2 linked regions of the Homo sapiens genome follow. The protein of the gene in region 1 interacts with the protein of each later gene in a pairwise test. Each region holds a gene or a part of one and is shown on either strand. Other genes may lie near its edges. The genes, in order: ZCCHC13 and ZNF250.

Evidence for each region.
Region 2: the proteins of ZCCHC13 (region 1) and ZNF250 interact in binary tests that used the Homo sapiens proteins (3 or more experiments, as listed by UniProt).

The regions. Positions count from the first base shown.
Region 1 is NC_000023.11:74,301,815-74,305,679, reverse strand, and holds ZCCHC13 (zinc finger CCHC domain-containing protein 13), read right to left. Parts: upstream 1,501-3,865; 5' UTR 1,414-1,500; coding exon 913-1,413; 3' UTR 646-912; downstream 1-645.
Region 2 is NC_000008.11:144,880,751-144,884,673, forward strand, and holds part of ZNF250 (zinc finger protein 250), read right to left. Parts: intron 2,087-3,923; coding exon 765-2,086; 3' UTR 1-764. UniProt on the Homo sapiens protein: May be involved in transcriptional regulation.

The sequences.
Region 1 (3,865 bases):
AGCTCACTGTGTTGCCCAGGCTGCTCTCAAACTCCTGGGCTCAAGTGATCCTTCTGGTCTGGCCTCCCAAAGTGCTGGGATTACAGGTGTAAGCCACTGCGCCCGGCCTGTTAAGATTTTTTGTTTCTGTTTTTTTCTGATTGCTCTCTCTCTCAAAGCAGCTCATATACATTATACATTTTGTTTCTGGTTTATTTTCATTAAACTACACACTCTATGCAGGGCCAGACAGAGATGTCTCGTTCAATGTTGTTTAAAACCTAATGAGGCCAGATAATTCAAAGCCATCAATATGATAAAATTTAAGTTACTTTGGCAAGGTCATGGATTTTCAGAATCAGCTTTATTTGCCCTATGGATCTCTGAGGAAATATAACCTCCTCAGGGTGCCCTTGTGTATCTAAAACAGAACCACATTCTTTCCCTCTTTCCCCCACATACACATTCTCTTTTTATCCTTTTACCTCCTGTTCTTTCTCTCTATGGCAATTTACCTTCATCTGACACACTATTTTTCTTGTTAATAGATTCTAGGCCTGTGTTTCTAAATTTGTTCTAATTTGTTCACCATTTAGATCCAGCTCTTCCAATAGTGCCTCTTAATTAAATGTGTTAAATCAAAATACAACAAAAGAACCCCTTAAGTGATTGGTGCTCAGAATGACTATTTAATAACTAGATTTGCCCGTGGGGCAGAAGCAACACGTTAATTGTGGGGCATCTACCAATGATTAACTTTTTTGAGGTTTTTTTTTCTAGCTCTTTCCTCCTTTAACATGGTAATTAAAGCTCACTTGCCTGAGAGTAGCCTCAATCTATCGACCTTTCGGTGAGTGAAGTTTTCGGAGAAAATAATACAATTATCAATCAGCAAAAGGGTGGGGGGTGGGGGGGAAGATTTAAGTGGTAACCTCACTGGGACATTCCTTGGCTAGATGTCGGGATTTGCCGCAGCGGTAGCAGTTGACCTGGCCTCGCCTTGCTGCAATTGATGGCCACGTGGCCAATCTCGCCGCATCGGTAACACTTGACCTGGGCGCAGTCTTTCTGAATGTGCCCAAGTTTGCCGCAAGAGTAGCATTTCTGCTCTTTCTGACGATCACAGTCACGAGCCAGATGTCCTAGTCTGCCGCAGGTATAACAGTGTTGGCGTCTCTCTCGTTTAGGATCCTTACAGTCTTTGGCGATGTGGCCGCTTCTCCCACAGTTGTAGCAGATGTTTCCGAGAAGGACACAGTTCTTAGCATTACGACCGGACTCACCACAGCAGTAACAGGTGTAAGATAGGGTGGTGGAACCACATTGAGAACCTCTGCCATGGCCTCCACCTCTTCGCCCTCCAGCTCCTCCTCTAGGGCATCCCCGAGCCCAATGGCCAGAGTGTCCACACGCGAAGAAATCCTTACTGCTCATGGCTGCGATGCGATCTTCCAATGAGCAGGCCCACCTCGGCCCCGGAGGCCCCGGCGCAACCCCGCTTTGGGCGGCTTAGAAAGAATTAGCTGTTTTCCGCTAGGTGTCTCAGTGATGTCATACAAGGTTTGCACACGGCCCCATTCACGTGTCACGGACATTCCTGACGCCCTTCCCGCCCGACTTTCCTCCTACTCAAGAAGCCAAAAGCACAATAATCTGTTAACTGAGTAGTGTTGTTTTCCGTTTTTGTTTGTTTCAACACTTGAATCATTGAGTTTGAATCCTTTCCTATTTAGAAAATTAGACTTGTAGAAGTTTTCATAATTTAAGACTTAGTCGGCCGGGTGCGGTGGCTCATGCCTGTAATCCCAGCTCTTCGGGAAGGCCAAGGCGGGAGGATCACGAGGTCAAGAGATTGAGACCATCCTGGCCAACATGTTGAAACCCCGTCTCTACTAAAAATACAAAAATTAGCCGGGCATGGTGGCGGGCTCCTGTAATCCCAGCTGAGGCAGTTGAACCAGGGAGGCAGAGGTTGCAGTGAGCCAAGATCGCGCCATTGCATTCCAACCTGGGCGACAGAGGGAAACTCTGTCTCAAAAAAAAAAAAAAAAAAAAAAAATTTGGTGTTCCAGTGGAGGTGAGGGGGACAAATTGTGTCGACTTCTATCCCATGATCTTGCTCTGTCCCCTGGGTTTCTTAATTCACTAAATAATTGGAACTCATAGTTTGAAGCATACTATTTAGAGGCATATGTGTAAACATATCTTTATATTACGAGTTATTTATTTATTTATTTTAGACAGGAGGAGTCTTGCTATGTTGCCCAGACAGGTCTCAAACTCTTGGGCTTGAGCAATCAGCCTCCTGAGTAGCTGGAACCACAATCATATGCTGGCTACTATGACTTTTTGATGTTTCAATTTTAGACATTATCTGTGTCTTTCCATTTTGGAGGATGAACATTTAGTCTTCTTTTACCACCCACCCTATGCACTTGCACAGTCCAAACTCCTCATTCCAACTATGCCTCCCTTCACTTAATATTGGTTGGGACAATATTCAATGTTTTTATAATTATAAGTATGTAAATGATACTCATGCCTGAGCCATTTGGAGAGTACTCTGATCACTTCATTACCTGCATGGTTTTTATGTTCTCTGGAGTTAGTTATTGTCATTCTTTATTTCTTTAGTTTCTCATATATTTACCTAAATACTATTTAATAGCTATATCTGTGTGTTTATCTTTATACCAGTACCACATAATCTTGATTACTGTAGCTTTGCATTATACTTTGAAATTGGGAGGAGTAAGGCCTCCAACTTTGCTCTTTTGATGTGACTATTCTGAGTTCCTTGCATTTTCATATGAATTTTAGGATCAGCTTGTCAATTTCTGCAAAAAAAGGCAAACGGGTGTTTGATATGGATTATGGAATCTGTAGATCATTTTGGAGACCATTGTTATCTTAAAAATATTGAGTCTGGCCGGGCGCGGTGGCTCACGCCTGTAATCCCAGCACTTTGGGAGGCCGAGGTGGGCAGATCATGAGGTCAGGAGTTCAAGACCAGCCTGACCAACATGGTGAAACCCTGCCACTATTAAAAATACAAAAATTGGCCAGGCATGGTGGCGCATGCCTGTAATCCCAGCTACTCAAGAGACTGAGGCAGGAGAATGGCTTGAACTTGGGAGGTGGAGGTTGCAGTGAGCCAAGATCGCGCCACTGCACTCCAGCCTGGGTGACAGAGAAAGACTCTGTCTCAAAAAAAAAAAAAAAAAAAAAATTGAATAATTAAATACATGAGCACAAGTTATTGTTTCACTTATTTAGGCTTTTATTTTCATTCTCTGATATTTTGTAGTTTTCAGTATACAAGTCTTGCACATCTTTTGTTAAATTTTTAAAGTATTTCATCATTTTTGATGTTATCTTAAATAGAATTATTTTCTTATCATTTTTCAATTGTTTATTGTTATTGTATAGAAATACAATTATTTCTGTATGTTGATCTTGTATCTTGCAACCTTGCTGAACTGATTTAATAGTTCCAGTAGTTTTTTAGTGGATTCCTTAGGATTTTCTATAGACAAGATTATGTCATCTATAAGTAAGGATAGTTTATATTCTTCCTTTCTAATCTGGATGCCTTTTATTTCATGCTCTTGCCTAATTGCCCCAGCTAGAACTTCCAGCACAATGCTGAATAGAAATAGTGAAAGCAGACATTCCTGTCTCGTTCTTTATCTCAGGAGGAAAGCTCTCAGTCTTTGACCATTAAGTATGATGTTAACCATGGTTTTTTAATTAAAAAAAAAACTACATACTTTTTTATTGGGTTAAAGAAGCTCTCTTCTATCCCTAATGTGTTGAGTGCTCTTATTATGAAGGGGTATTGAATTTATCAAATGATTTTTCTGTATCCTTGAGTTTGCCTTGCCTT
Region 2 (3,923 bases), on another chromosome or scaffold:
TTACTTGGGAGACTGAGGCACAAGAAAAGCTTGAACCTGGGGTGGGGGCGGAGACTGCAGTGAGCCAAGATCATGCCACTGCACTGCAGCTTGGGCAACAGAGCAAGACTATCTCCACACACACATACAAAAAGTTTTTTAAATTTATGTAATTTCTCACTAATATATAAGCTTTTTCCTTGTTTCATACAAAACAGGACTCCACACACTTAGGATGGAAATCCACACACTTAGGATTTCCAACCATTTTACATGATGCTTGATGAAAATATCTTTTTATATCACTTTATCCATACAATACTTTAGTCTTTTAAGAGAATACTGAAAATAGTCCGACTTTCAAATTTTAAGTGCAATAATTAGTATGGTTAATTGATATTTAGGAAGGGCATGTAATGTTCTTAGAAAAAGAACTTTATTTGGAATGTAAGATTTTATTGGGATAATGGTTCTTATGCCTTAAATTCCCTTAGTTCAAATAAACTAATGTTAAAGAATTATGGCTGTTTTTTACCAAAATTCTCTACAATTGTATGATTACTCTCCAACATAACTTCAAGATGTTGAGGAAAATAAAACAGGTAGTCTCTGAAGTTTTTCCACAGGAACAGCACGCTAAGTGCTTCTTTCTGGAGTTATTTTGTGACACTGAATCGCCAAAGAAAAGCTTCCTATAGAGTTAACAGAGACTTCTCTTGGGCTGAAGGCTGCTTGTGGTTCCACATGCAGTTTCTGTGAGAATGGATTCTTGTGTCAGCCATGGGTCACAACTTTCTGTGCACTTTCTGGTGCTGGATTAGGTGGCCATGCTGGTTGAAGGCACGCCCACACTCCCCGCACTCATAGGGCTTCTCGCCTGTGTGGATCCGCTGGTGCTGGATGAGCACTGAGTACTGGCTGAAGGCCTTCCCGCAGCTATTGCACTCATATGGCTTCTCGCCCGTGTGGGTCCTCAGGTGCACAATCAGAGTTGCTTTCAGGCTGAAGGCTTTGCCACATTCTGTGCACTGGAAGGGCTTTTCACCTGTGTGGATTCTCTCATGCTGGATCAGAGACCGGCGTGCACTGAAGGCGTGCCCACATTCACCACACACATAGGGCTTCTCCCCAGTGTGGACTCTCTGGTGCTGGATCAGGTGTGAGTGCTGAACGAAGGCCTTCCCACATTCGTAGCATGCATAGGGCTTTTCCTCGGTGTGGATCCGCTCGTGATTCATCAGTGTGGAGCGGTGGCTGAAGGTCTTCCCACACTCACTGCACTCATAGGGCTTCTCCCCGGTGTGCACGTTGTGGTGCTGAATGAGGACTGAGCGGTCGCTGAAGGCCTTCCCACACTCGCTGCACGTGTAGGGCTTCTCCCCGGTGTGGATCCTCTGGTGCTGCAGCAGTGTCCTCTTCACACTGAAGGTTTTCCCACACTCATTGCACCTGTGAGGCTTCTCCCCAGTGTGTACCCTCTGGTGGCTCCGCAGAACAGTGCTATGGTTGAAGGCTTTCCCACACAACGGACACACATATGGCCTTTCTCCCGTGTGGATCCGCTGGTGCTGAATGAGATGTGAGAGTTGAGTGAAGGCTTTCCGACACTCAAGACATTCGTGAGGCTTCTCTCCTGTATGTATCTTGTGATGCTGAGCAAGATCTGAGCTCACTCTAAAGGCTTTTCCACACTCATTACACTCATAGGGCTTCTCACCTGTGTGAATTCTCCTGTGTTTACTAAGGACTGAGCTCTGGCTGAAGGCCTTCCCACATACACTGCACACATAGGGCTTCTCTCCAGTGTGGATACGCTGATGCTGAAGGAGGTGGGAACTCCGGCCAAAGCACTTCCCACACTCAACACACATGTAGGGCCTCTCTCCACTAGGCACTGCCTGGTGCGGAGTGAGTGGCATGCTTTGGCTTAAGACCTGAACTTCACGGTGGTCAACAGAGTTTGGACTCAGACAGAAGCTTTGCTTTGTTTCATTATTTTCTTGATCAATCCTCCCCAAGGGTGTTTTCCCCAGAATCACTGTTTGCTCTGAAATTAATGGCTTCGGACTCAAGTCTGTATTTTGACTCTCTCCCTTGGTTTCACATTCTGAAAGAACAAATCCAAAATGAAAATGTTAACACTACTCAAAACTGAAGAGCTAGTGCAACCCTGAAACTGGCCTTGCTGATGAAGGTGCAAAATCCCTCAATGCACACGTTGGTGTGAGCTACAGAAGAACAGAACCACCATAACTGTGTCAAACAACTAGATATCAGAAGATAATGTTTCCAGACAGGAAGGTGCCAAGGCAAGCTTTAAGAGAAAGGTGTAAACTCCAGTTTGAGGTCACACCCCTGTGTGGAGTCCACAGAACAGCAGGGAAACAGCCCAGTGGTGCCTGAGTCCTGCCCTCCCAGGGGTCCTCATGTGGACAGAGCTGAAATACAGGCCCACATAATGTGGGTGCCTTGTGGGGCAGACAGCAGCACTTGGGCAGGCAGGGAGAGGTGTGAGCTATTGTGAGCAAGTCGGGGTGTGCCATCTGGAGGCCAACAGACTTGTACATGAGGTAGGGGTGGTGGTGCTGCCACCTCTTTGTGGAAAATAATTTCTTTTTTTTTTTTTTTGAGAAGGAGCCTTGCTCTGTTATCCAGGCTGGAGTGCAGTGGCACAATCTCGGTTCACTGCAACCCCCACCTCCTGGGGTCAAGCGATTCTCGTGTCTCAGCCTCCTGAGTAACTGGGATTACAGACGCACACCATCATGCCTGGCTAATTTTTGTATTTTTAGTAGAGATGGGGTTTTATCGTGTCGGCCAGACTGGTCTTGAACTCTTGACTTCAAGTGATTCACCCACCTCGGCCTCCCAAAGTGCTGGGATTACAGGCGTGAACCATCGGACCTGGCCATGTGGAAGATAATTTCATGTGGAGAATGCAGTGGCAGGAGGAGGGGAGGGAAGGACAAGACTGAAGGTGCAGAGGGGCATGATGGGAATCTGCTGCCAAGTTTAGGCCACAGATGAGGCCTTCAGGAGCAGAAGCATAGATGGCGGGAAAGGCAGGGGTGGAGACTCTTCTGGGAGCAGGTCGAGCGCTCTGCAGGCTGATTGTGTGTGAGTGGGTGGGAGGTAAGAGGTGCTGAGGACAACAGTGATTTTTTTTTTAGATGGAGTCTCTGTCACCCAAGCTGGAGTACAGTGGCTACTATCATAGCCCACTGCAGCCTCAAGCTGCTTGGGGCTCATATGATCCTCCCGCCTTTGCCTCCCAAAGTGCTGGGAGTACAGGCATGAGCCATTGTGCCTGGCTCTAAACATTATTATATTTTATTTTACTTAGTTATGCGTGTTTCTGAGCTTTCTATAGTTTCATGGAGCACAGTCTTCTGGAACTCGTTTTCCCGTCAGCATTATGTTTTTGAGATCCATCATGTTGTTGTACAGCAGTTAATCATTTTCACTGCAGTATATTCCATTAAGTTAAAATACCATAGTTTATTTATGTCTATTCTGTTTATGAACATAATTCTTTTTTTAGAGACGGAGTCTTACCCTGTCGCCCAGGCTGGAGTGCAATGGGACGAGCTCGGCTCACTGCAACCTCTGCCTCCCGGGTTGAAGTGATTCTCCTGCCTCAGCCTCCCCAGTGGCTGGGATTACAGGCACATGCCACCATGGCTGGCTAATTTTTTTGTATCTTCAGTAGAGACAGGGTTTCACCATGTTGGCCAGGATGGCCTCAAACTCCTGACTTCGTGATCTACCCACCTCGGCCTCCCAAAGTGCTGGGATTACAGGCAGGAGCCACGGCGCCCGGTCCTGAATTCTTTTCAAATGTTTTTTTAAATCATGAAGCATGCTTCTGTGAAGATTCTCCTATGTTTCCTGGTGCTTACACACAAATGTCCTTGCTGTATACATATGCAAGAGTGGGAAGTGGT